4 separate regions of the Homo sapiens genome follow, and regions 1, 2 and 4 are each linked to region 3. The links come from fine-mapping of genetic effects on gene expression. A gene starts in region 3. Each other region holds a variant in brackets. All regions are shown on one strand. Distances are between the middles of the regions.

The links. PIP is the estimated chance that this variant, and not a neighbour inherited with it, causes the effect.
Region 1: its variant is the best candidate, but not a certain one, in a credible set for the expression of GPATCH2L in transverse colon (GTEx, PIP 0.88).
Region 2: its variant is the best candidate, but not a certain one, in a credible set for the expression of GPATCH2L in whole blood (INTERVAL, PIP 0.60).
Region 4: its variant is the best candidate, but not a certain one, in a credible set for the expression of GPATCH2L in skeletal muscle (FUSION, PIP 0.84).

Annotation. Positions count from the first base shown.
Region 1 is chr14:76,217,089-76,224,567 of GRCh38, forward strand. It overlaps a transcript of GPATCH2L not described here. Among named protein-coding and RNA genes, the nearest start is that of GPATCH2L, 69 kb to the left of the region's middle. The variant C/CAGA (reference allele first, on the strand shown) is at 4,502.
Region 2 is chr14:76,125,767-76,133,245 of GRCh38, forward strand. No RefSeq gene overlaps it. Among named protein-coding and RNA genes, the nearest start is that of GPATCH2L, 22 kb to the right of the region's middle. RefSeq lists an enhancer at 5,836-6,335. The variant GA/G (reference allele first, on the strand shown) is at 3,750.
Region 3 is chr14:76,148,340-76,155,818 of GRCh38, forward strand. GPATCH2L (G-patch domain containing 2 like) reads left to right here and starts at 3,583. Exons shown (of 10, transcript NM_017926.4): 1 at 3,583-3,652; 2 at 6,015-6,686. The coding sequence starts at 6,025.
Region 4 is chr14:76,234,611-76,242,089 of GRCh38, forward strand. The region is part of intron 2 of LOC105370575 (a long non-coding RNA gene); the gene reads right to left. It also overlaps a transcript of GPATCH2L not described here. Among named protein-coding and RNA genes, the nearest start is that of GPATCH2L, 86 kb to the left of the region's middle. The variant G/A (reference allele first, on the strand shown) is at 3,245.

The DNA.
Region 1 (7,479 bases), 69 kb after region 3:
CTACTGGAAAAAAAAAGATGAATTCCTCTGTGACAGGGGTCAGCAAGCCACATAGCCTGTAGGCCAAATCTGACTGGCCCAAGGCCTAGTTTTGGACTGCTGCAAGCTAAGAACGGTGTTTTGTTTTGTTTTTTCTGCCACCTTTAAAGTGTTCAATAACAAAAGAGGAGACCATGGAACAGAGACTTTATGTGGTCGTAAACTCTAAAATATTTGCTATCCAAACTTTTATTTAAAAAAGACTGTGGACCCATGCTTTGTAACCTGGGTTAGCTATTGCATAATAATGCGACTGAACTCAGCTGGGGCACCTCTGCTCTAAGTGTCCTTCATCTCCTTGGACCAGTACAAAAATATACCCCACTCCTTTGGTAGAAGGGAATGTAAATCCACATGGCAAAGGATGGGGATATAGACAATGGAAAGTTTTGGGACCAATAATGTACTCTTCCACACTAAATACTACTAAAAATTTAGATGCAATAAGAGGAGATATATTTGACTGTTGAAAAAAAAACCTTGCATGCATATACACAGTAAGCAAACTAAAATACAAGTGATAACCCAGAAACATGGTTGCAACTTACATCACAGATTAAAGGCTAATACTCCTAATTTATAAACATAAAAATAGAGAATCTCCTGTAGACCACTGTAGAAGAGATATGAGCAGACAGTTGACAGAAAAAATGCAAATGTCTCTCAAACGTGAAAAGATGCTCAACTTTCCATATAGTCGATTGATTTTCACAGCAACCTAATGAGTAGATATTCTCATCATCCCCATTTAAGAGACAAAGAAACTGAGTCATAAAGATGTGAAGTATTATGCTTGAACACAAAAAGCTAAGAAGTAATGGTGCCAGGATTTGAACCCAGTCAGACTGGCTCTAGATGAAAGACTAATTTACCATGGCTAAATGAGGCTTATTTCAGGAATGCAAGGATCATTTAATATTAGGAATAGCTGGGTGTTTCCTTAATGTGATAAAATATATTTATCTCATCCAAAGCCTGCGTCATGCTTAATTGAGAATACCAGAAGCAATTTCATTGAAGTCAGGAACAAGAAAAAGATGTCCACTAATTATCACTATTATTTAAAAATGTTCTGTAAGACTTAGGCGAAACAATTAAGTGAAAGAAATTAAAGATACAGAAATTAGAAGAGAAGAGAAAATTATAATTTTAAGATGATACTGAGTTTTTTACTTAGAAACTAAAGAAGACTAACCAGACCTTACAAAATAAGAATTTAATAAATTAATTTTCAGAAATCAATAGCTTTTATAGATACAATGTCTAATTTCAAGCTCTAAGGGAAGAAAAGACCCATGTTGTAATAGCACAAAACATAAATGATAACATAGGAATAAACACAAGAAATATTATTTGTAGAAAATGTTAAAATGCTAATGAGAGATGAAACAAGACCCAAACAAACGGGAAGATACACCACGTTCTCTCATAGAAATACGCAGCATCATAAAGATATCACTTCTCTCGATTTACAAATGTAATGTGATCTTCAATAAAAATACCAATAGAATTGAAAAAAATTATATAAATTAATTCTAAAGTTCATATTAAAAAAAGATAGAGGGAGACTACTAGATATTAAAATTTATACATCTACAGCAATTAAAACAGAGTAGTAATAATTTGTGAGTAGTCATACAGATGAGTGGAACAGAACAGTTCAAAAATAGATCTAAATACTTACGAGAATTGAGAATATGATAAAGATGGCTTTTCAATCAGTGGAAAAAAGATTAGTCAGCAAATGGGGTGGGAACTCCTAGGTAGGGCTCTGGTGAAAAAAGTTAAGTTGGATCTATACTTCACCTCTTATACCAGGACAAATTACAGACAGTCTAAAGATTTAAACGTAAAAAATAATAATTTTTCTAAAAGTACAAAAAAAAAAAAAAAAAGGAAAGTTATTTTATAACCTAAGACTGGGGAAGGCCTTTCTAAGTATGACACAAAACCCAGAAGCCATAAAAGAAAAGATTGCTGGATTAGACTTCACAGAGAGAAAACATTTCATCATGGCAGTAGCACCATAAGCAAATGCAAATGAGAACTTGGGCAAGAAATGTGTAACTCTGCCAAGATGAGGGCCTAAGTTATCTAAAATAGAAAGAGTCCCTATCAATAAAAAGGAAAACACATTAGCAATCCAGTATAAAAATGGGCAAAGGAGATTAACAGAGACATGTAATAGAAGAGAAAATACAAATGACTTTGAAGCATACGAAAATGCTTAATAATAGAAGTTTTTCACCTACCAAAAATAATAAAGTTTGTTAACACGCTATAATGGCAAATGTGTAGTTAAATAGATGCTCTCATACATTGTATAAACTAGTGCCAAGTATAAAGAGTTGGCAGTATCTTATTAAAATTACAAAGGTTCATTACATTTTTAAACCCAGCAATCCTAGGAATTTGTCCTACAGATACAATTGTATCTATACATGTGAAATAACGTATGTCAACATAAAAATGTATAGAAAGATGAATCTCTAAGTAAAAAGGTTTTATTGGGGAGTAATACACAAGATGTGGGATTGCAATCCAGGTCATACATACAGACAGACCCAGGTGTCCTCCAGTATGTCCAGAGAAAAGGAAAAGGTTAGGGTTTTACTGGGGAAAGAGGAGGTTATACAAGTCGTTCTGAAAGAAAGTCATTGGAGGGGATAGTGTCTTTTGGGAGCTGGCAAGTGCTGATTTGTGAGTGGTGGCAGTTATTGGGTGAAATTTGTGATCTTAAAATTATGTTTTGTTTGATTGGCCTTGCATATGAGTCAATGTGTCAGGCAAGTGTTCTTAGAAAAGTGATTAGCTGCCCTGCTGTCCTTGTGTGACTTAAGTTGGTAAGCTTTGATTCGTTTCTGTTATCAGGCAAATCGTGCATGAAATCCCTCCTTTCATAGCCTTCCCTGGCTCCACGTTGTCAGGGTTTGACACAAGTGACTCCATTTTGAATCTGACAACTTTTGCATGAGCAGGACTAACCATTAGAATTCACCAGAGGTTAGTCAGCTTCAGTCCTCACACAAGGAAGGCAATTACACAAGGCTTTAATACCAGGAGGTTGGTCATTTGAGGTCATCTTAAAGAGGCTGCCTAACACATGGGTAAATATTTTAAAAACCTAACTATATCTGGCTTTCAAGAGGCATACTTTGAGTGTTAAGAGAAAAATTGAAAGTAAAAGGATGATAAAAAACACACCAACCAAGAAAAGGCTGATATAGCTATACAAATATCAGTTGAGATAAATGTAAGTCAAGAAGCATTACTAAGGACACAAAGGAACATTTCATAGAGATAAAAAGATAAATCTACCAGAAAGATAGAGTTTGTATTTTAATGCAACTAATAATATAGCTTCAAAATATAGAAAACAAAATTACAGACCTAGAAGTACCTGATAGTACAAGTAGTGATTAATAATATGGATGATTACAATAAAATGAATAATAAATTTAACCTAATTAATGTCCATAGAATACTATAACCAGCAGTGTCAGAAGAGGTATTCTTTCCAAGCACCCATTGAATTTTTACCAGAATTTATCATATGCTGGTCTTTAAAGTAAGTCCCAACAAATTCCAAAGGGTAAATCACCTAAAATATGTTCTCTGACCAAAGTGAAATTACTCTAAAAATCAATTTTTTAAAAACCCCAGCAGAGCCTGAAATATTTAGAAATTAAACATTACAATTCTAAATTATTGATAGTTCAAAAATAAATTGCAGTAGATGTTAGACAATATTTGGAACTATATGGCAATTTTTAAATGACATCAAAACTTGCATAAAAAAGGCTAAAAGTCAGTCTAAGTACGCATCTCAAAAAGTAGAAAAAGGATAGCAACAAACCCAGAGATTGGTTCTCTGAAAAGACTAATAATATTGATAAACCTCTAGCAAGACTGATTTAAAAAAAAAAAAGTCAAAAAAATGAGAACATAAGCCCCAGGCTGGGATAAAATGTTTGCAAAAGACACATCTGATAAAGGACTGTTATCCAAACTGTAAAAAGAACTCTTAAAACTCAGCAATAAGAAAAAAAAAAAAGCCCTAAATTAAAAAGTGGACAAAAGATCTGAACAGACACCTCACCAAAGAAGATATACAGATGGAAAATAAGCATATGAAAAGATGCTCATCAGAATAAAATAATAATGAGATGCCATGACATACCTATTACAATGGTGATTTTCCAAAACACTGACAACACCAAATGCTGGTGAGCATGTGGAGCAACAGGAACGCTAATGGGAATTAGCTAATGGGCATGAAAAATGGCACAGCTATGATGAAAGACGGTTTGGCAGTTTCTTGCAAAACTAAGCATGCTCTTACCATACAATCTAGCAATGATGCTTCCTGGTATTTATCCAAATGAGCTGAAAACTATGTCCACAGAAAGACTGCACACAGATGTTTATAGCAGATTTATTTGTAATTGCCCAAGATGTCTTT[C/CAGA]AGCAGGTAAATGGATAAACAATCTGGTACATGCAGGCAATGGAATATTATTTAACTCTAAAAAGAAATGATCTATCCAGCCATGAAAAGAAATAGAGGAAATTTAAATGCATATTGCTAAGTGAAAGAAGCCAATCTGAAAAGGCTACCTACAGTATGATATCATCTATATGAACAGGCAAAATTATGGGGACAGTAAAAAGATGAATTGTTGCCAAGGGTTAGATGGGAAGGAGAGGTGAATAGGCAGAGCACAGAAGATTTTTAGGGCAGTGAAAATACTCTGTATGATACTACAATAATGGATAAATGCCATTATACATTTATCAAAACCCATAGAATGTATAACACTAATAGTGAACATTAGTGTATCAACTATGGACTTTGGATGATAAAGATGTGTAACTGTTTTATGATAATGTGTTGATTGTAACAAATGTATCACTCTGGTGAGGAAGGCTGTGCATGTGTGGGGGAAGAAGGTATATGGGAATTCTCTGTACTCCTGCTCAATTTAGCTGTGAATCCAAAACTACTCTAAACTCTATTTTAAAAATAGAAAAAAGGCACAGATTACCAATATAAAACCCCAGAAAAAGCCTGGGATTTTTTAAAACCCCAAACCTTCATATTCTAAGAATGTAATATGAAGAACTTTCTGTCAGCAAATCAGAAAATCCTCATGAAATGGAATTTCTAGGAAAATACAATTTACCAGCTCAAGAGTAAATAGAAGGCTGGGCATGGTGGCTCGTGCCTGTAATCCTAGTTCTTTGGGAGGCCAGGGTGGATGGATCATTTAAGTCCAGGAGTTCAAGACCAGCCTGGCCAACATGTAAAACCCCGTCTCTACTAAAAATACAAATAATTAGCTGAGCGTGGTGGCGTGCACCTGTAATCCCAGCTACTCAGGAGGCTGAGGTGGGGGAATCACCTGAGCCAGGGAGGTCAAGGCTGCAATGAGCTGAGATGCTGCCACTGCACTCCAGCCTGGACAACCGGAGTGAGACCCTGTAACAACAACAAACCCAAAAGAATAAATAGAAAATTTGAATTGTTTATATCTGTTTAAGAAGTTGAATCTGGGCTGGGCACAGTGGCCCACGCCTGTAATCCCAGCACTTTGGGAGACTGAGGCAGGTGGATCACTTAAGGTCAGGAGCTCAAGACCAGCCTGGCCAACATGGTGAGACCCCATCTCTACTAAAATACAAAAATTAGCTGGTCGTGGTGGCATGCTCCTGTAATCCTAGCTACTCAGGAGGCTGAGGCATGAGAATCGCTTGAACCTAGGAGGTGAAGATTGCAGTGAGCCGAGATCGCACCACTGCACTCCAGCCTGGGCAACAGAGTGAGACTGTGTTCAAAAAAAAAAAAAAAAAGAAAGAAAAAAAAGTTGAATCTGTAACTATAACTTTCCCACAAAAAAATCCCCAGTCCAGATTTTTTTCTTCACCAGCAAATTCTTTTAAACATTTAAAGAATTGACACTAGTCTTATACAAACTGTTTGAAATAATACAAAAAGAAAAATAATTCCCAATTCACTTTGAGGCTACCATAATTTTAATACCAAAGGGTGGCAGGTTCATTACAAGAAAGGAAAATTATAGGCCACTATATCTAATGAACATACTTATAAATATCTTAAAGAAAATATTAGAAAGTAAAGTTCAGTGAATTATTTATTTTAGGAATGCAAGATTTTGGCTTAACATCACAAAATCAGTGTTTTCAACCCATTCAACTGGATTTATTTTCAACAAACTATCTGGGACAACTGGATATCCACATGCGAAATAATGAAGTTGGATCCCTCTTTATACAATATGCAAAATTAACTAAAAACATATCAAAGACCTACACATAAGGGCTAAAACTAGAAAACATTTAGAAGAAAACAAATGCATAAATCTTCATGACCTTGGATGAGGTAATGGTTTATTAGATATGACACCACATGCACAAGCAACTGAAGAAAAAATAGATAAATAAGCCTTTATCAAAATTTAAAATTTTTTGCTTCAAAAAGACACTGTCAAGAAGATGAAACGACGACCACAGAATGGGAGAAAATATTTGCAAATCATATATTGGATAAGGGTCTGATATCCAGAATATATAAAGAACTCTTATGACTCAACAACCAAAAGGTAAACAATCCAATTTAAAAATGGGCAAAAAGACTCGAGTAAGCATTTCTCCAGAGAAGATGTAGGCATGGCCAACAAGCACACGAAAAGATGCTCAACATCATTAGTCACTGAAGAAACACTGAAACTACAAGATGCCACTTTACACCCATTCCTAGACAGTTAAAAACTTATGTACCCCCAAAAGCTTGTACACAAATGTTCATTTTAGCCTTATTTACAATAAACTAAAAGTGAAAACCACCCAAGTACCTATCAACTGATGAATGGTAAACAAAATGTGGTATATCTGTACAATAAAACATCATTCTGCCATGAAAAGACTGAAGTACTGATTCATGTGGCAACATGGATTAACTTTGAGAATATTATGCTAATTGAAAAACACCAGACAGAAAAGGCCATATTCCACTTACATGAAATGTTCAGAATAGGCAAATCCATAGAGACAGATATTGCAGACAGGCAGTAGATTAGTAGCTGCCAATGGGAAAAGGGGAATGGGGAAGGACTGCTAGTAGGTATGAGGTTTCTTTCTGCAGTGATGAAAATGTTCCGGAGTTATATGGTAATCATTGCACAACTTTGTGAATATACTAAAAACCACTGAATTGTACTCTTTAAAATGATGACTTTCAAGATATACGAATTATGTTTCCATTTAAATATTAGTGTATTTCACTACATTAGCATCGTAAGGCAGAAAAAATATCTCAATAGAATGATGCAGAAAAAGCATTTGATAAAATCAAATACTTATTCATAGTGAACACTTAACACACTAGGAATAGAAGGAAACATCTTTAAATTGGTAAAGATCAGTAAA
Region 2 (7,479 bases), 23 kb before region 3:
TTAAAAGAGAGGAAGGGTGAGAGGTCAGCAGCAGACGGCATGATGGGAGTTTGGGATGTAATTATCACTCCTGTGACATACTGCGGGGCTGTTCTCCCCCTTCTTATAATAGATATACACACTTAGGTGCAGCTTAGAGAGAGGAGGAGGGTAGTGATGCCGAGAGGTGCAGAAGACCTGCTGGAATGGGCTTTGTGTACTGGGCCTCACAGGTGAAGTTAGAGCACCAAGGGACCCAGCAGCATCTGTGGCCTCACTGGAGAGCAGCACCCTCCATTCAATGAGATGTTCCCCAAAGCCCTCTGCACAAAGCCTGGGACACAGGAAGCACAGGTTACTGCTGTTACTGTTAAGTATCAATTAGATCTGAGGAAAACTATTGGGGAAGGCACAGATGGGGTAAGCTCAGGAGGTAGCTGGGTGGGGCGGATGGGTCACACCTCTCTGAATTTACACTCTCGTGTGGTTTCCTCCCACGGTGAATCGGAACTGACCTATGACTTGCAGCCAAAGTGAAGTTGTGCAAGGTCTGAAGGTTATGCCTAGTCTGAAGAAGCCTTACAACTTCTGCTTTCTTTCTTGGAGTTCTAAGTCTCCATATAAAGAGGTCTGGGTCATCCTACTAGAGAAGTCATATGGCGAGAAAAGACCTGGAGGATGAAAGACTGTGAGGAAAGAGGAGTCCCAGTGTTTCAGCCATCCCAAGGGAAGAGGGCAGGCATGAGAAGGAGACCACTGGGGATCTTCAAGCCCAAATCGTAAGCCACACACTAAGCCCAGTCAAGCCACATGGAGCAGAGATGAGCCATCCCAACTGAGCCCTGCCCTGCCCTGCCAACCCACAGAATCATATGTGATAAAATGGCGGTTGTTGTAAACCATGTGTTTTGGGATGGTTTGCTATGCAGTAATGGATTCTTCTTATCTGTGATCCCTAGACCCATTCCTCCCTCTGCTCTTTGCCTCCTGCTAGGGTCCAGGGGTAGGATCTCTTTCTGGAGTAGATGCACCTGTACCAAATAGAATTCCTGCCTAGGGGTGTACCAAGGATAGGTTGGGGGGTAATGCCCCACCCTGACTGCAGGCATTTAGAACTTAGAGTAACAAAATATTTTTTCAGGGAGGAGAATTTTATCACTGTCATGGTTTAGAATTACTAGCAAATGGTAATAATAAAAAGAAGACTGACTTTCAGTTGGTATTATAATTTTTTTAAGGTCCTTAAGGCAATGGATCCCCTTATTGCCAGTTCCTGGGGCAGACTGCACTCACTGTCCCACCCTTGGGGCACCACTGTTCCTAGTTCTTCCTCATGACCATATGAGCTTTGAAAAGAGAGAATTGGGAAGAGGTAAAATCTGAAAATGGCAGGAGTCCAAGGCAAGAACTACAGTAAGGGTTGTGGGGGCCCCTGTTCTATGCAGGGCTTTTGCAGGCATTGTTGCTTTTAATCCTCAAGGAGACCCTGCCTGCATTTTAACCAAGGAAGACAGGAAGGCTCTCCTGGGTGGGAGGCTTGCCTGAGTTTACAGAGCAATGAAGTGGTGGAGCTGGGGTGCAGACACAAGGCTTTTGGACTCCGGACTCCAAGACTAGCAAGGATGGAGGGAAGTATGTCTCAAAGCCTGGCACATGCTGTACAAGGCTGGGGTTATGATGGCCTCTTCCTAGTGCTTTTCTGAGACAGCTAAGAGGTTTATCCCACTTTTCACATTTACCACAAAATATGAAATCTGGCTCCCTCTTTTCCCCTTTAACAACGCATAGTGCAGTGATTAAATGGTGCTGAATGACCTGAGTTCAAATCCTAGGTCTGCCCGTATGGTTGTGTGACCTTGGACTAGTTTTTCAAACTTTTTTTTTGCCCCAGTTTCTTTTTCCATAAAGTGGGATTAACAAGAGTATTTATTGCATCAAAACTGATGGGGGACTCAAATGAATCAATATACATAAAGAACACAGATGCTGACATATATTTGTAATTACCTACAAATACAAATATGCACTACGATGGGCACTTAAAAACTTTAAAAATACTGTATTAGTCTGTGCTCACACTGCTAATAGAGTCATACCTGAGACTGAGTAATTTATAAAGGAAAGAGGTTTAATTGAGTCACAGTTCCACATGGCTGGGGAGGCCTCACAATCATGGTGGAAGGTGAATGAGGAGCAAAGTCGCATCCTACATGGTGGCAGGCAAGAGAGCGTGTGCAGGGGAGCTCCCCTTTATAAAACCATCAGATCTTGTGAGACTTACTCACTATCATGAGAACAGCATGGGAAAGACATGCCTCCATGAATCAATTACCTCCCACCACGTCCCTCCCACAACATGTGATCTACAATGCAAGATGAGATTTGGGTGGGGACATAGCCAAACCATATAAAATACTAACTCTTTTAATTCTTCCAATAATCCTATGAGGTGGCTACTATTATCATCCCCATTTAATAGAGGGGGACCCAGGACTCATAAAGGTTAATGACTCATGCAGTGTCACACAGTTAGAAAGTGGCAAGACCAAGATTCAAACCCAAGTACACCTGCCTCCCAGACATGTGCTAAACAATCTACACAGGGCTGTGCTCAGTAAATGTCAGCTGTTATAATTTTACCCAGTTTGCCTGAATAAACACCAGGGGTTGCTCTATCTCTCCACTTTTCTTCCACGGGAATTATACTAGGGACCCCTTTGCATAAGTAATCACAGGAGAATTAAAAACAGAAAAGTTGGCCGGGCACGGTGGCTCATGCCTGTCATCCCAGCACTTTGGGAGGCTGAGGCTGGCGGATCACAAGGTCAGGAGATCGAGACCATCCTGGCTAACACGGTGAAACCCTGTCTCTACCAAAAATACAAAAAAAAAAAAAAAAAAAAAATAGCCCGGTGTGGTGGCAGACACCTGTAGTCCTAGCTACTTGGGAGGCTGAGGCAGGAGAATGGCGTGAACCCAGGAGGTGGAGCTTGCAGTGAGCCGAGATCGTACCACTGCACTCCAGCCTGGGCAACAGAGTGAGACTCTGTCTCAAGGAAAAAAAAAGAAAAAACAGAAAAGTTAAAGTAGGCAGCATTTTCCACCCATCAAGTAAGTAAAATTTTAAAAGTATGGTATCATCAAGTATTGTCAAGAGTGTGAGGAAGTAATACTTTCATACGTTGCTGGTGGTACTGTAAACTGTAAATCCTCTCTGAAGGGATTGTTTGGAAGGACAATTAAAGTTAAAACCATGTATTCCTGTGATCCAACAATGTCACTTATGGGTGTCTGTCCTAGAGAACCACGTGCACAAGCACACAAGACAACACAGATATGTTTATTGCTATCATAGTTGCCACTGCACTGTGATAGCAATAAACCGGGAACAGCCTAAGTCCATTAATAGGGATGGCTTAGCCCCAAATAGAGCGAAAACCATGCAGTGGTAAACAGAATTCTGAGCAAAGAAAGTCAGTTGCAGGCTGGGCGTGGTGGCTCACGCCTGTAATCCCAGCACTTTGGGAGGCCAAGGAGGGCAGATCACTTGAGGTAAGGAGTTTGAGACCAGCCTGGCCAACATGGCGAAACCCTGTCTCTACTGAAAATACAAAAATTAGCCAGTCATGGTGGCGCACACCTGTAATCCCAGCTACTGGGGAAGCTGAGGCAGGAGAATTGCTTGAACCCAGGAGGCAGACGTTGCAGTGAGCTGAGATCGTGCCACTGCACTCCAGCCTGGGCAACAGAGTGAGACTCCGTCTCAAAAA[GA/G]AAAAAAAAAAAGAAAGTCAAACAACACATAGAAAGCCATTTATGTAAGAACAAAATATCACTGCAGCATAATAATATGTCTTTTTCTACAGGGTATGCACATATGTATGTAAGGACATAGAAAAATCATTGGAAGGTTACGCACCAACTTGCTCACAGTGATAACCTCTGGGAGAACAGGAAGAGACCAAGACTCAAGGTTGGTCAAACATTATCATTTATGTTTTATTTTTTAAATGATAATTTATTTTACTATTACTTTTATAATTAAATTTTAATATTAAAACGGGAAAAAATCAATCGGGGAATGTGGTTTTCTATAGTGTAGACCTCAAAATTAGACAAGCCTGATGTCTTAGCCCATTTGGGCTGCCATAACAACATGCCATGGCCTGGGTGCCTTAAACACCAGACATTTATTTCTCACAGTGCCGGAGGATAAGGCCCAGATCAAGGCATCAGCATCTGTCTGGTGAGGGCCTTCATGCTGTGCCCTCACAAGGTAGAAGGCAGGTGGGTGGGGCAAGAGAGAAACCAACTCCCTTCACCAAGCCTCTTTATAAAGGCGGCTAATCCCATTGACAAGGCAGGAGCCCTCCTGCCCTAATCACTCCCTAAAGGCCGCACTAGCTACTGCTGTCACATTGGCAACACCTGAATTTTGGAGGAGACACATTCAAACTGTAACAAAGAGAATGAACCTAACCAAGGTTCCCTCCCTTCTCTGTTTTTCTACCTGTGCCCAGGAAAACTCCTGCAGCCCCTCCCTCCAGCAGTTTCTCAAGGAGATAGGGAACCCAAAGGCAGGAATCTGGGTTCCTCTCAGCAGCTCCAAGGCAGATAAGCCTGGAGTCAGAATTGGAGTGTGTGTGGGCTGGCAGTAGAGAATGTGCTCTGTTGAGAAGGTGACAGCTTTATTCCCAGCACAGTGTGAGGCTCAGTGAAAGTGGGAAGGAGTGAAGAAGGGTCTGCAGGGAGAGACAGTGGTCATAGAATCTATATATGTTAGTGCAACAGAGGCCATGTGGCACAACAAGGAGAGCAGAGAGTATTTCCACCACAGAACTTTTCTTTCAAATGAAATCCTGCAGAGAAGCCCAGTGAATGACACAGACATAGGTGGAACCACTGAGGCTGCCCACTCCACCGCCTAGAGACCCTCATCAGTGACCCCTGAAGCATCTCTAGAGAACCCTCTGACAGTGCCACAGCTAAAATCCCTCCTCTCACTCAACAGTTCACTTTCCAGAAGCCTAGAAAAGAGTAGCTCTTTATCCAGGGAACTCTCCCCCTTTCCCACCCACCTTCTGGGTCCTTCATGGCCTGAGAAGTTTTGCTCGTATCTCACCCAAGTCTTCCTTTGACAAGTTTTTGACCCCCAAAAGCCTCCCTTGGACACTGGACACTTCTGGGGTGTTGGAACTGCTCTATATCTTGATCTGAGTGGTGGTTGCACAAGTTTATTCTACAATGTACAGAGCAGTGCTGGATCCAGCTCACCCTGGCTCTCATCCACTCGCATCTCTTCCAAACTCTGCATTTGGTGAGGACACGTTGCCCAGTGAACATCCCTCTGGCCCCTGCAGGGGATCCTGTGCAGGGAGCCAGCGGAGACTGAGGTTGCTCAGAGGCTAGGCTAACCAGGAGAGAGAAGACAGAAAGAAAAACCATCCGGGGATTCCAGGGAAGCCAAGGATGCCTGGGCTTTTGGGAAACAGTGACGGTCAGGCCGGAGGAAGGTGTTGGCATTGAGGAAGCCCTGGGGAATGCAGACTGTGGAAGGGAGCCTCGCTTGCCCGTCGGTGGGCTGGGCGGGAGCGCTGACCCTGGCGCCTCGGAGGAGGGAGGGGGCGGGCTGGGGAGGGGGAAGACAGCGTGACTGCGGTCTGATCTACAGTGACGAGTACCAATGTTAACTGTCACCTCTCATCTCCAAACTAAATCACACCTGGAATTGGAGGAGCCGAGGAGCTGATAGAGTCAGCCTCGCAGAGGCGACAAGTCAATCAGCGCGGAGATGCCCGCGGAGACACCGGCTCCACGGGCCGGGCGCCTCCATTCATTCTGGGATTTACACTTGTCAGGCTGCCGCCTCGGGTGGGCAAGAGGAGGGGTGGGCAGGAGGCCGGTCTCCCTTCAGCTCCACTTAAAATGGGATGACAAGCAGCTCCTCCCCAGAGGCACCACAGGCTGGGCCCATCATTCTTGATGTCCCTCCACTTCTCTCTGTCTTGTGGGTCATTCCCCCAGGTCAGTGGACTTCAGGCTCAAGGATTTGGAAGAAGCCCAGCAGTCAGCAGATGGAGACAGATTGGTGGTCTCTCGGGGCAAGGGGTATTGGCTGTTTGAGCAACCTTTGTCTGGGAGCTTGACAAGAATTCTTTCCTGGTCTCCAGGTCATCTGTTTGGGAGGGAGCAGTGGGGCCTTGTGCAAAAGGAAGGATGGAGTCAAACTACTTTGGAGCAATACTGTCGGTGGTCAGATGAAATGGAAAAGATCGTCGCTTTTTCTTTCGTTCATTTCTTTGCTCATTCAACAAATGGCATTCAGTTTGGCTGTAGCAGAGTGCTGGGGGTTTAGCAGCACTGAGCCTCCACATCCTGAAAAGGGGGAGAATTGAAGCATTTAGAACTTCTCAGGTTGCCATCTGCCACTGTCTTAGAATTACTGAATGAAACTGCAGCTCCCCCATCACTTTCCATCGCTGACCACACCATCATAATCCTCTGCACAGTCATTTATAAAGTGCTTTTTCACCTATAAACATAACTGTGCTAAGTGCTGTGCCAAGGAAAATGCCTAGAGATATACATTCCAGATGGAGGAAAGCACATTGAGGTCCCATTGCTGTTTGAACATCTATTTTACTTTTGTCACCATGAAAGTAAGAAAACTTCATTCCAGAAAATATGGAGCAATAGAAAGAGGGGAAAATCCCCTAAATACAAAGCTAGCATTTTGATGTGCTTTCTTCTAGTCTTTTCTCCTATATTTCTTTAACTTATTTTCCCAAAAGCCCCCAGCCCAGAGCATGTACTATGTCAATGAATGTGGAGTCAGGGTGGAAACCTCATTTTTCTCCTCTGACCCCATTCAGAGTGGCCCCTGAGGACATGGTTTCATTCTGCCTGGTGCCCGGACACAGCAATGGTGATACAGGCATTCGGTAGGCTGATCTCTTAATCCAGATTGGTGTAGTCCTTTGAAACTGAAAGTAGCTCCTTTTTATGTCGCCTGCTTCTCAGCATTAACTTCTCTTTGATGTAATTTTTGCTTCCGTTGCTCTCTCCCTTCATGGGTTAGATTAGTGTGAAATTGGCCTGGCTCCTCTGGAGACTGCAGTATTAAGCTTCAAATACTTGGTTCTTATTGGAAATCCTTAACCCACATCAGGGGAGAAAAGTGGCAGCATTACTTGGGAATGAGAGAGAGAGAGTGTGTGCATGCACACACGTGCGTGTGCATATGCTTACAAACGTGTGCAGGGGTGGGTGTAGACTAAGAAGGAGAGAAGCACACTGGCAAGGGGAAGGTGGGGAAGAGGAGATTGAGATTCTTCTCCATTTATTGAGTGCTGAGGATCTGCTCATCTTAATCTTAGGAGGAAGGGGTAGGAATGGGTCTTAGGGAACTTGAAAACGTGATAATAAGGGTAGAAAGCCTGTTTAATTTGCTGGCGCTCTCAGTGGAGCTGTCCAAAAGTCTTGGTGCTGAAGGGAAGAAAGAAA
Region 3 (7,479 bases):
TGGACAAGGTGGCTCACACCTGTAATCCCAGCACTCTAGGAGGCTGGGGCAGGAGGATCACTTGATGGTAGGAGTTTGAGACCAGCCTGGGCAACATAGTGGAGACCCTATCTCTCTACTAAAAATTTAAAAATTAGCTGGGCATGGTGGCATGTGTCTGTAGTCCCAGCTATTTAGGGTGCTGAGGTGGGAATATTACTTGAGCACAGGAGGTCAAGGCTGCAGTGAGGTAATGATCATGCCACTGCAGTGTTCTGTCCGTAGGTGTACCATCATTTAGTTAACTAATCCCTGTTGTAGAATTTCTGACTTTTTCTACTTTCCTCAATCCTCCCTCAGAAATGCTGCAGAGAAGAATTTAACCTGTATCTAACATTTTTGAGCCCATTTCCAATTTTTTTTTTTTTTGAGACATGGTCTCACTCTGTCTTTCATTTCACAGAGACCCTGTCTGGGAAAAAAAAAAAAAAAAAAAAGGAAAGGAGAGAGGGAAGAAAGGAAGGAAGGAAGAAAGAAACTGTGGAAGAAACTAAGCTTTATTTTTGACATTTTATTATATTTACTTATTTATTTTTGAGACACGGTTTCACTCCTGTCACCAGGCTGGAGTGCAGCAGTGTGCTCTCAGCTCACTACAACCTCTGCCTCCTGGAATGAAGTGATCCTCTTGCCTCAGCCTTTCCAGTAGCTAGGATTACAGGCGCCCACCACCACACTTGCCTAATTTTTTGTATTTTTAGTAGGGACGGGGTTTCACCATGTTGGCCAGGCTAGTCTCAAACTCCTGACCTGAAGTGATCCACCCGCCTCAGCCTCCCAAAGTGCTGGGATTACAGGCGTGAGCCACTACGCCTGGCCTATTTTTGACATTTTAAATTGGAAATGCTGGTGAGGTGAACAAGTGGAGCTATCTAGTAGAAAAATGAAAATATAAGTTGGATTTCAAGAAATTTGGGAGCTTTCAGTGCTGATGCAGGCAATCAACACCGTGGGAACAGATGTGATTTGTGGGAGAGAATTTTCACTTATGCAGAAAAGAGGCCTAAGGCTGTGGACACCTGTTGAACATTTCCATATTTCTGTCCTGTGGGAGTCACAGATTCAGCATGTCCAAAATGGAATTAATCATCTTTCCACTAAACCCGTTTATCTTCTTGACTTCTCTAGCTGTGCAGATGGCACTGACCATTGTCTTAGTTGCCCTAGCTCAAAACCTCAGCTATCTTTGTCTCCTACCTTGACTTTTTTTCACCTATAGAACATTCTGAAAATCCACAAAAAACAATAGATAGGAGATATAATCATTGATAATGAAACCATTTCGGATATTGTATGGTGGCTTCTTCTGGTCATATTCCTTTGCGAGTATAGATTTAATTTCCTTTGTATGGGAATCATACTCTACATTTTTAGAGTAATCTTTTTATTGAAGTATAACAGTCATGCAGAAATGTACACAATCATAAGTCGATGGCTTTTCATGTCATTAAATATTCTTTTGCAACATTAATTTTTAAAAGTTGCAAGATATTCCACCCATAGATGTACCATAATTTAGTTAACTAACCCCTGTTGTAGAACTTCTGGCTTTTTCTAGTTTCCTCATCTCTCCCTCAGAAATGCTGCAGAGATGATTTACCTATATTTAACATTTTTGCGCCCATTTCCAATTTTTCCTTAGAATACAATTCTTTGGGGCAAAATTTCAGGGTCCAAGGTATGTGCATATTTTTAAATAAACTTTTTTATTTTAGGATAATTTTGGGTTTAGATAAAAATTATGAAGATTGTTACAGTTTCTGTGTAATTCACACTTTCTCCTATTATTCACTTTTTTTTTTTTTTTTTGTGACGGCTGAGTCTCACTCTGTCGCCCAGGCTGGAGTGCAGTGGCTCGATCTCTGCTCACTGCAACCTCCGCCTCCTGGGCTCAGGCGATGCTCTTGCCTTAGCCTCCTGAGTAGGGACTGGGACTACAGGCATGTGCCACCACACCTGGCTAATTTTTTGTATTTTTAGTAGAGACGGGGTTTCACCATGTTGGCCAGGCTGATCTCGAAATCCTGACCTCAGGTGATCCGCCCACCTCAACCTCCCAAAGTGCTGGAATTACAGGTGTGAGCCACCACACCAGGCTATTCACTCTTACAGAAGTATAACACATCTCACAATTGCAACCAATATTGATACGTTATTATTATTATTATTATTTTGAGACGGAGTTTCACTCTTGTAGACCAGGCTGGAGTGCAATGGTGCGATCTTGGCTCACTGCAACCTCCGCCTCCCAGGTGCAAGTGATTCTCCTGCCTCAGCCTCCCGAGTAGCTGGGATTACAGGCACGTGCCACCATGCCCATGTAATTTTTGTATTTTTAGCAGAGACAGGTTTTCACCCTGTTAGCCAGGATGGTCTCAATCCCCCAACCTCAGGTGATCCGCCTGCCTCGGCCTCCCAAAGTGCTGGGATTACAGGCGTGAGCCACCTCACCCGGCCCGATACATTATGATTAACTAAAGTTGATACTTTATCCAGATTTCCTTAGTTTTTACCTAATGTTCTTTTTTCAATTGCAGCGTCACACCCAGGACACCATATTACATTGTCATGCCTCCTTAGGCTCCTCTTGGCTCTGAGTTTCTTAGACTTCCCTTGCCTTTGCTGATCTTAACAATTTTGAAGAATACTGGTCATGCACTCTGCAGAATGTCCCTCAATTCGGGTTTGTCTGATTTTTTTTTCTTATAATTAGACTGGGTTATGAGATTTGGAAGGAAAGTACCATAAAGTGCCATTCTCATCATATATCATTCCACATACTATCAACATGATTTAGCACATAGTCTTGATCACCTGGCTGAATTACTGTTTGCCAGGTTTCTCCCCTGTAAAATCACTCATTTTCCCCTTTACAGATGTTGTACTTTTGGGAAGGAAGTCACTATGCACAGCCCACATTTAAGGAGGCAGAAGTTATGCTGCAGGATGGCTGTCTACATAAGTTATTTGAGATTCTTCTGTGGGGGATTTATCTCTTCTTCCTCATTCGTTAATTTATTCAATCACTTATATCGGCATGGGCTCATGAATATTTCTTTTGTACTTTGAGTTATAATCCAATATCACTTGTTTTATTGCTCAAGGCAATTTGAAATGTTCTGAGTAACTCAGTGCAAAACAACCTCTTCCAAAGGTTGTACCAGCTCACAGGGTAGACGTCATTAAGATCCATTTCCCCTCAACTTCACAGACCCATTAAAAAGGTCAGAAAGCAAGAGATAAGCTGACATCCCTGCCTAGCGCCCAATTTCTGGAAGCCCCTAAGGAAGATGAGGCCAGCATGCAGGGGTCTTTCCCCACGTGGGGCACCTCAACCCCTGAGACGCCCTTTCCCGGCCAGACCCTATTCAACACCCCTCCTTGTCCCCTGCCCCATCTCCTGGCTTCCTGTGGCTCCGCCCACCGCGGGGCGGAAGTGGGTGTGGCCACGGGCGGAAGCACTGGGTCAGGGGCCCAATCGTGCAGCCAGCCCCTCCCACTCGCCACCGCCCCACCCCTCCGGCCCAGACCGGAAATGAGGTCAGAGAGGGAAGCCCCGGCGGTGAGAGTCGGCCCAAAAAGCGGCGGCCGTTGGAGGTGGCTGCGGCAGCTGGTGAGGGGGAGGAATGGGTTGAGAGTGTTGGGGTCCTGGGGGCTAGTACCAGAGGGGATCGGAGCGCCAAGCCGCGGCTGAGCGGCTAAGGGCGTCTTGGGGCTGCGGCAGACGGCCGGAGGGTGAGGGTGGTGGGGCCTTGCTTTTCAGGGCCCTTGTCCCCATCCCTGGGGATGTGGGTCGGGCCGTCTCCGGGGCCACAGCCCCCTCTTCCCCTTTCTTCTTTCTGCCTCTCTGGGGCGGGCTGCAGCCTGAGGGCTTGGTGTCCCGAGCCATGGTCGCCCCAGCCCTCAGGGACGGGCCGGGGCGTGGTGGAGAGTCCTTCGAAACACAGTTTTTGTCATATATGTGGCCATGTTGCGACCCCCGATCCCGGAGGGAGCTCAGTCGCCAAGACTTGCATTTTGGCAGTTTCTGCCCTAGAAGAGCCGATCCCCGCCCCTCGTGAGCCCAAATGAGCAGTTGCCTCCTGCCTCTCCCACCTCCTACTCCGCCCCTCACTTCCACCCTGCTCCTGTCTCTCTTCTTACTTGCTGTCCACCAGCTACCCGTTCCTTCCTGTGCGTGACTCAGCCTCATCTCTGCCCGGGTGCGTGCCTGGCCGCCGGGTCCTCTCGAGAGTGTGCATCCGCGACTGGAGATGGGGAGTTCTAGGGTTCTTTTGTCACTACTGTTGGAATTACAGGCTTTGAGGCAGGAAAGGATTCTGCACAGGCATTCGACTGCAAGTTGTTTGATGACTTCGTTCCATGTTCAAGTTTGTGCTGTTCTGCCTGAGGTTTTTATTTGTTCTTTTGTTTTTGTTTTTTGTATTTTTGTTGCCTGAGTTTTTAAAGCAGTAATTCTTTATTAGGGAAGTAGATTTTGACATGCTGTTCCCACTTGTTTCTTTATTTTGGTCTTAGGGACAGTTGTCTCCCAAACCTCAATCATGGCATTTTAATCCACTTTTTTTTTTCCCATTTTTTCCCCTTCTTTTCACAGGTGTTGATAAACCACTTCTTAATGCTTAAAAGAACTTGGTCTTGTTTAAATGTATGTGCTTTTGGACACTTTGAGAAGCTTCGTTTGTATGGTAGTTTTGGAAGTAGGTGTCACTATTGCTCCTACAGGTGTGGCAGATAAGCCAGAGGACTGTTTTCCTGTCTTTAAGTTCATTGGCATAGGCACAGCATGAAAATAGGTTTTAGAAAGCCCTTTGCAAAGTGAAAACTGAATGAATGGGAATATGGTCAGAGAGTGGCACCACTTAGAATTTTAAGCTGATCTTGAAATACTTTGGGCATAGAGGCAAGAGAAAAGTGCTAAAAATTTAATATGTATTTAATTAGATGCTGTACAAATTAAATATTTCCCCTTAAGGGGGAATTTTGAAGATTGCTCCTACTACTGTCATTTCTTGAAATGTTTGTCTCTGAAGTGACCCCTGAAGTGTGATGTTTGGTTTGAGGATGAACAGAAAAATAAGAAATTTTGGAAAGCAGTTTGGCCAGAAATCTTAGAAACTTCACCCTATCCCTGTCATTTCAGCTGCTATTGTATCCTAGTTTTCTGTGATTGTGTGGCACTGAAGCACATAACTAGGACCAACATTTATTTTCTGGAGGGTAGGAGAGGGGCTTAAAAATTGTTAATTATTCAAAAATATATGACATACTGTATAAGGTTCTATACCTGGTAGCTTCCAGGTGGTAGTTGGTACCAGAATGGGCGCAAACTTAGTCTCTTCTCCATTCTGACTTCAAACCTGGGTCACTACAATTTCTTGGATCACGAAAACTGCATTCTTCCTTAAATGGTGTCACTAAGTTGTCTTTCTGTTTCTTTCTGCCATGGTCATTGTCAGCAGTGACCCCAGGCCAAAGAACAGTTTTTCATTCATTCTCAATACCTCGATGAGACCATGTGCTACTCTGTGTTTCCACAACTCTAGTGTGATTTTGAAGTTGTATGTTTTTCTGTTCCTGTCTAGTGAGACAGTCTCTAATCTTTCTGGATCTCATCATTAGGTAATTCAATGACAAGTTTAATTGGGGAAAAGAGAGAAGGATCTAGTCCCCCGAATTTGTTTTGGGTCCTGTCCCAGTTGTCTTCTGGTTAGTAGGTTTTTGTGCTTAAGAATATGTTGACTTCAGGCATTTAACAAGGGACAAAACATCTATTTTTAGTGACTTAAGGAAGTGGTAGGAACAGAATCTAAGTGTAGCCAGATGAAAGGTGACTTATTTTGTTTAGACAGGCAGAACTGTGGACTACCATGATCTGTTTCATCAAATTATTCCAAAACAACAGATCCTTTTTCAGGCTTTCTTTTTCTTTTTCTTTTCTTTCTTTCTTTTTTTCCTAAACTTCCTTTTGGCAGATGTGGCCTCATGGATGAGCTGGTACACGACTTAGCCTCAGCCTTGGAGCAGACATCTGAGCAGAATAAGCTTGGTGAACTGTGGGAGGAGATGGCGCTGAGCCCCCGACAGCAGAGGCGGCAGCTTCGGAAACGCCGAGGTCGGAAGCGTCGTTCTGACTTCACTCACCTGGCAGAGCATACCTGCTGCTACAGCGAGGCCTCTGAGTCAAGTCTGGATGAGGCCACTAAGGACTGTCGAGAAGTGGCTCCGGTGACCAATTTTAGTGACTCTGATGACACAATGGTAGCCAAACGACACCCAGCTCTCAATGCCATTGTCAAGAGTAAGCAACATTCTTGGCATGAATCTGACTCCTTTACTGAAAATGCACCTTGTCGACCACTCAGGCGCAGGCGGAAGGTGAAGCGAGTGACATCAGAGGTGGCTGCTAGCCTTCAGCAGAAGCTGAAGGTGTCAGATTGGAGCTATGAGAGAGGCTGCAGGTTCAAGTCTGCTAAGAAGCAGCGTCTGTCCCGCTGGAAGGAGAATACTCCCTGGACCTCATCAGGCCACGGATTGTGTGAATCAGCAGAAAATAGGACTTTCCTAAGCAAAACAGGAAGGAAAGAAAGGATGGAGTGTGAAACAGATGAACAAAAACAGGGCTCTGATGAGAACATGTCAGAATGGTGAGATCTCCCTTACTAAGTCAAAGATTTTCCTGGTTAATTTTTCCCAAAGTGCACATCCATGGTCTTAGTGGGTTCTACCTTCTTTCAAACCAGCCACTCTAGTATTGACTTTGAAGCCTTCCTTGAATCAATCAGTAGTTTAGCTTTTTAAGGTACCATTCATGAGTCTATTTCCCTCTGTCAGGAAGGCTATATGTAATAGAAACACAGTTGTTTCTAAAAACTGTTTAAAACGCGTACCTCAAATGCAAAACTAATAATTTTATTTTAAAAAACAATTTGCTGCTTATTATGCCATACAGTTTATACATAAATATTGTTGTTTAGAACTCAGGTCTCAGCAGAGGCTGGTGTGTGTGTGTGAGAGAGAATATGCTAGCGCCAGGTATACGGAGTTTATAAATGTTCCATTAAGTTGCCTGTCCTCATTAAGAATCATGGCTTTAGATGCTTTTTGGCTATAATTCTGTTTTCTGCTACTTGTGGTTTGATTATATTGAATTTATTTTTTTATGGCTGACATTCAAATTGTCTGAACACATGGTGGGCTTTGAAAATAACAGTACCGAGTCCCATTAGTCTTACATCAGATGTGATCAAGCCAGAAAAATTTGTCTCTAATGGGTACATGTTTAAAAATGTAAGTGTAGTTTTGGTGACTTTTTATTTTTTACATCTCAGATAGTCCTAGGAACATTGATACCCCCCAGCTTGATACTTTAATGTTATTAATATTAATCTGTGGTTATCTTTTTCTTAATAGTGAGGATGCCATTGGTGTTTTGGATGG
Region 4 (7,479 bases), 86 kb after region 3:
CCAGCAAGAAACTGAAACCCTCAGTCTGACAGCCACAAGGAAATAAATTCTGCCAACAACCTGAAGAAGCTTGGAGCAGATCTTTCCTCAGTTGAGCCTCTGATGAGACTGCAGCCCGAGCTGTCACCTGGATAGCAGCTGGTGAAACCCTTCAACAGAGAAACCAGCCAACCTGTGTGTAAACTTCTGACCTGCAGAAACTGTAGATAAAGAGTGTGTGTTATTTAGAACTGCTAAGTTTGTGGTAGTTAAGCAGCATAGAAAATGAATACAGTAGGCCAGGAGTGGTGGCTCACGCCTGTAATCCCAGCACTTTGGGAGGCCGAGGCCAGCAGATCACCTGAGGTCAGGAGTTTGAGACCAGCCTGGCCAACATGGAGAAACCCTGTCTCTACTAAAAATACAAAATTAGCAGGGTGTGGTGGTGCATGCCTGTAATCCCAGCTACTTGGGAGGCTGAGGCAGGAGAATTGCTTGAACCCAGGAGGCGGAGGTTGCGGTGAGCTGAGATCACGCCGTTGCACTCCAGACTGGGCAACAAGAGCGAAACTCTGTCTCAAAAAAAAAAAAAAAAGAAAAAAAGAAAATGAATACAGTAGACATTCACCAAACTATATTGAATTGAATGACTGATATGGTTTGGCTGTGTCCCCACCCAAATCTCACCTTGAATTGTAATACTTTCCACATGTTAAGGGTGGGGCAAGGTGGAGATAATTGAATCATGGGACAGTTTTCCCCATACTGTTCTTGTGGTAGGCTTAACTCGAATAAGTCTCATGAGATCTTATGGTTTTATAAATGGGAGTTCACCTGGACAAGCTCTCTTGCCTGCTGCCATGCAAGACACGCCTTTGCTTCTCCTTTGCCTTCTGCCATGATTGTGAGGCTTCCCCAGCCATGTGGAACTATGAATCCATTAAAACTCTTTTTCTTTACACATTACCCAGTCTTGGGTATGTTTTTATTAGCAGTGTAAAAATGGACTAATACAATGACTAAATATGAAGGCTAGTTAAGACCTGATCAGACACTGTGCTTTTAGCTGAATGAGTCCTCCAGCCATTGACCAGATGGTTGAACTTCACTATCCATTGTTTCTGAGGTGGTTTTGTGACCCACATCAGCACTAATTGAGTTGGTCAGGCCCTTCCTCCAGCCAGGCTGATTGTGGCATTCTCTGACAGTTGCTTTACCCCCTCTCACCTTCCCCCATGATCTCCTTGCAGCCTGCCCACACTGGCCTTAGGGTGACTTTCTGGAGAGGCAAGCATCTTCATGTGAGACCTGCCAAAGGGTGTATACCTTCTCAAAAGACCCTGCAGTTTCTTCTCCAATGTGGACAACGCTGAGCATATGATCTTTCGGTGTCTATCTGCACTTTCTTTGACCTGTGAGTATTTCTGTTTATGGTGTAATTTACTTTCTCCTCTCCACATAGCTTCTCCAGTCTGATTTCTCAATGGTTGTAAATTGCTCCCAACAAAAAGCTTTAGAACATAAGCATTCAGTCTTGAGCTGAGCCTGTGTGGTCACTGTGCAGATCTGTCCACCCTGGGACACTCCCTGGTGCCCTCCCACCGTGCAGGGACAGTTCTCCCTTTTTGTCTCCATGGCCCATGGCTTCACAAACCCTCTGTTCTCTCTCTAATGTTCTCTCTGTCACCTCCCCTTTCCTAGCCTGGGTGTTTGAAAACAATCATTGTCAGAATATGACATTTAATCTGTTTTCAGTTTTTATTGTAAAAAGAGGAAGCGAAGACTAGCGGTAAGATGCAGATGACTAATGAAAGAATTCCTCACAGCTGTTCAGGGATATATATTTTTTTCTGTAGTGGAGCGAGACAGATTCCCATCACAGCTCGGGGACTCGTTCCGTGAAGCCCCTCATCTGTCATGCTCTGGGGGTGAAGGGGGCAGTGGAGAAATGTCATTATGGATGTAACTGGACTCAGAAGTGACTGGTCAAGGTTGGCACTGCAGTCCTGATGGAGCGGCTTATGGAAGTTTTTCTGGGAGGCACTGCTGGCTGGTGGAAAGGGCAGCTCCAAACACCCCTGCTTGTGGTTGATTCCCAGGTTCCGTCCAATCAGACCACCTTAGAGCTGGAATAAGTCCCTCCAACATAGCTATCCAAGGAAAATACCCTTCTACCCATTCCAAACCAGATAGGATATCAAAACAAGTATTTTCTCAGGTTTTGCACCAGACCTGAACAGGTGCTCTAATCATCTGTGCTGATGCCACTGGCCCATCTCTCTGGGAACTCTGAGCAGAGTGGAACCAGGGTGGTCTGGATCTGTGCCTGGTGCATTACACCAACAGGGAGGAATGCTTGGATCCGTGGTGCCTGCATCAGGCTGGCCAATCCTGTGTGGATACTGATTAGTCTCAAAGCGAGAATGCTAAGGAAGACAGAGATCAGCCCATCTTATAAGACACAGATTCTACTGGGCGCTGTGGCTCACGTCTGTAATCCTAGCACTTTGGGAGGCCAAGGTGGGTGGATCACCTGAGGTCAGGAGTTTGAGGCCAGCCTGGCCAATGTGGTGAAATCCTGTCTTTACTAAAAATACAAAAATTAGCCGGGTGTGGTAGTGGGCACCTGTAATCCCAGTTACTCAGGAGGCTGAAGCAGGGGAATCTCTTGAACCCGAGAGGTGGAGATTGCAGTGAGCTGAGATTGCACCGCTGCACTCCAGCCTGGGCAACAGATCGAAACTCCGTCTCGGAAAAAACAAACAAAAAAAACAAAAACAAAAACAGCAACAACAAAAAAAAACAAGAAAACACAGATTCCTTCTCCCTACTGCCTTTTCCTAACCCCAGGAAACAACTTGAGCAAAGAGCTTTTCAGTCACTAATAGTTGTCCTTCCCCTTTCTGCTCCTGCCTTCAGGCTTGTTCACTCACCCTCCACCAGAGGCAAAGAAGCTGCCCCGCAGGCACTGCCTACAGCATCAGTGAGCCCCCTTGGGCTTCTCCACCCGACTGGACCCATGGCTGTCATGCCTTGACTGCCCTTCCTCCCAGGTTTCCAGTTTGCTTGGGGAAAGAGCCTTTCTCCGTATTTCCTTATTGCCAGCCTCATTCCTAAAAGGATTTGAAATGTCTGACAAAAGCACAAATGTGCAGCAAAGGAGGACACCCAGGCAGGGGAAATAAAGGCAGGAAATGTGAGGCAAAGCCACGTGAGGCTCTCATACAAAAGGCTGATTGATATTCACTTGCTAATTTGATTCTGC[G/A]TTTTCTTGAAAGAAGGAAACATAATCAACAATTCCCTTCACAGTGTCCATGAGATAAAAGCAAACGAGTTGTTTGGGAGAAAGTTCTGAAGTGCCAGATGCATCTCTGGTGGGATGCTTATTCTTTTAAGGATGTGAGCAACACCCTCAATCATGATGAGTTTTATGAGCCATACAATTATTAAAAATTTTTAACTTTCTTATTAAGATTCCTGTGAAGATCACTGGCATTTGAATTCTGATTGTCTTTAGAAAGACTTTGTGTCTTATGAAATCATGTTTGAAAACACGCTGTATTTTGTCCTTTTTCTTCCTCCTCCCTCTCCTATTTCTCTGCTCTGTCTCTCCCCTTTCCCATTCTCTTCCTCACCCTTCTTTCTTTTGTTTGAGACAGGGACTCGCTGTGTCACCCAGGCTGGAATGCAGTGGTGTTCACTGCAACCTCTACCTCCCAGGTTCAAGTGATCCTCCCTTCTCAGCCTCCCAAGTAGCTGGGACTGTAGGTGCATGCCTGGCTAATTTTTGTATTTTTTGTAAAGTTGGGGTTTCACCATGTTGCCCAGGCTGGTCTCGAACTCATGGGCTCAACGGATCTGCCTGCGTTGGCCTCCCAAAGGGCTGGGATTACAGGCATGAGCCATTGTGCCCAATCCTTACCCTTCTTGAAAGGACACTACACATTTTCCACTTTCAGGGGTCAGGGAGTTTGGGCTCTGGTACTTACTCTATGAACAGTTGTCTATGCCATTCATTGTGCTATGTGTGTCCTGTGTCTGGATCTGTCTGTGCGATTTCTGTGCTGGTGTGTTTATGCATGAACAAGAATAAGTGAAAGTATCCAGCCGAGCTACTTTACTGAGTTATGATTAAATTACATGCAATAAGCTGCGGGTAGGACTTTTTTTTAAAGCAGTGTTTCTCAAACTCAAGCATGTTTTAGAATCTCCTTAAAAGTTTGTTAAAACACAGATTGCTGGGCCTCACCCTAGAGCTGCTGATTTCATAGGTCCAGGTGGGACTGAGAATTTGCATTTCTAACAGGGTTCTAGGTGGTGTGCTGCTGTTGGTCTCAGTGTCGCTGTTGCTGTCAGTCTTGGTATCATGGAGAACCACTGTTCTAAAGAAACTTCCTTTCCTTTCCCTTAAACCATCCTAGGTTGGACAACCAGTTGTGGTCCATTTGGGAGCTCCCATCTCATTAAAAAATGAGAACATCCTGAGCCAGACAAAGATGCTCTTTGTACTTTTAGTTTCATTCTGAACCCAAGCCAGAAATCTACCTAAGCAACTCACGTGGGAGTCATGAGGAAGCAAATATTTAGACTTTACGAGCATGCGCATTCTATACTGACCAGTGTTGAATTTTTCCACGATTTTCATTTGGGCAAAGTACTATGTGTTACAATCAACCAGGTGGTACTTCTCAGATGCCTGATAATGTTCTGAAAATTAGAGAGATAAACATTATCCTGTGTGACAAATACAGGTATGTCAGTACAGGCTGGCTGAAGATCTGATTTGCTGGGTGAAAGCTCCTTTCCCAACTCTTTCACCTGAAACTAAAAGTTCTTGCTAGTGAGCATCCATTTTGGCCAGAGTGTGGCTACATCACCAACCCAAAAGGGTTTAGGGAGGACAGGGAACAAGATTTCATAGCTGCATAATACCAGGCATTCCCAGAAGTGCTTTGCCACCTTTGCTGGTATGTCTTCTGTGGCTTTACATGTGCCAGGTAAGCTGACAGCAGAACATCAGTATCCACTTGTTGTGGTTTTAAAATATGTTCACATATACAGTTGAAAGCATTCCTTCTGAGAACTGGAACAAGACAAGGATGCCCGCTTTCACCACTTCTATTCAACATAGTGCTGGAAGTCCTAGCCAGAGCAATCAGACAAGAGAAAGAAATAAAGGGCATCCAAATTGGAAAACAGGAAGTCAAATTGTTGCTGTCAGCCAATGATGTGATCATATACCTAGAAAACCCTAAAGACTCATCCAAAAAGCTCTTAGATCTGATAAATGAATTCAGTGAAGTCTCAGGATACAAAATCAATGTACACAAATCAGTAGCACTGCTATACACCAACAATGACCAAGCTGAGAATCAAATTAAGAACTCAATCTCTTTTATGACAGCTGCAAAAAATTAAAATACTTAGGAATATATATATATTTTTTTAATTTTTAATATATATTGTGCCACTGCACTCCAGCCTGAGTGAGAGAACGAGACTCTGTTGAGACACTGCTGGAGTGCAGTGGCACAATCTCGGCTCACTGCAACCTCCACCTCCTGGATTCAAGTGATTTTCATGCCTCAGCCTCCTGAGTAGCTGAACTACAGGCATGCGCCACCACACCTGGCTAATTTTTGTATTTTTAGTAGAGACCAGGTTTCACCATGTTGCCCAGGCTGGTCTCAAACTCCTGACCTCAAGTGATCTGCCTGCCTCAGCCTCCCAAAGTGTTGGGATTATAGGCGTGAGCCACCGTGCCCAGCCCCTGACTTAGGAATATACTTAACCAAGGAAGTGAAAGATCTCTACAAGGAAAACTATGACACACTGAAATCATAGATGATATAAACAAATGGAAACACTTCCCATGCTCATGGATGAGAAGAATCAATATTGTGAAAATGACTACACTGCCCAAAGCAATCTATGGATTCGATACAGTTCTCATCAAAATAATATCATTCTTCACAGAACTAGATAAAACAATTCTAAAATTCATATGGAACAAAAATGATCCTGCATAGCCAAAGTAATACTAAGCAAAAAGAACAAATCTGGAGGCAACATACTACCTGATCTCAAATTACACTACAAGGCTATAGTTACCAAAACAGCATGATACTGGTATAAAAATAGGCATATAGACCAATGGAACAGAATAGAGAGCCGAGAAATAAAGCCAAATACTTATATCCAACGGATCTTTGACAAAGCATACAAAAACATAAATTGGGGAAAGGACACCCTATTCAATAAATGGTGCTGGGAAAACTGGAAAGCCACATGTAGAAGAATGAAACTGGATCCCCATCTCTCACCTTATAGAAAAATCAACTCAGCATGGATCAAAGACTTAAATCTAAGATCTGAGACAATAAAAATTCTAGATAATAACATCAGAAAAACTCTTTTGGACATTGGTTTAGGCAAAAAATTCATGGCTAACCCCCCAAAAGCAAGTGCAACAAAAATAAAAATAAATAAATGGACCTAACTAAACTAAAAAGCTTATGCACAGCAAAAGAAATAATTAGCAGTGTAAATGAACAACCCACAGAGTGGGAGAAAATATTCACAAACTATGGATCCAACAAAGGACTAGTATCTGGAATCTACAAGGAACTCAAATCACCAAAAAACCCCCCAAATCATCCCATCAAAAAGTGGGCAAAGGACATGAATACATTTCTCAAAAGAAGATATATAAACAGCCAACAACTGTATGAAAAAATGCTCAACATCACTCTTCATTAGGCAGATGCGAATTAAAACCACAATGAGATACCACCTTACTCCTACAAGAATGGCCATAATTAAAAAGTCAAAAAACAATAGATGTTGGCATGGATGTGGCAAAAAGGGAATACTTTTACACTGCTGTTGGGAATGTAAATTGGTACAACCACTATAGAAAACAGTGTGGAGCCTCCTTAAAGAACTAAAAGTATATCTAGCATTCAATTCAGCAATGCCACTACTGAGTATATACCCAAAGGAAAAGGAGTCATTATATGAAAAAGACACATGCACACGCATGTTTATAGCAGCAAAATTTGCAATTGCAAAGGTAAGGAGCTAGCCTAAGTGCCCACCAGTCAAGGAGTGGATAAAGAAAATGCGGTATATATACACCATGGACTACTACTCAGACATAAAAAGGAATGAAATAATGTCTTTTGCAGCAACTTGGATGGAGCGGGAGGCCATTATTCTAAGTGAATTAACTCAGGAATGGAAAACCAAATATTGTATGTTCTCACTTATAAGCAGGAGCTAAACTATGAGAATGCAAAGGTATAAGAATGATATAATGGACTTTGGGGACTTGAGGGGGAAGGTTGGAACAGGGTGAGGGATAAAAGACTACATATTGGGTATAGTGTACACTGCTTTGGTGACAGGTGCACTAAAATATCAGAAAGCACCACTAACCACTAACCATGATCATCTAGACCATGTAACCAAAGCCTGTATAAATGAAAACCATGAGATATC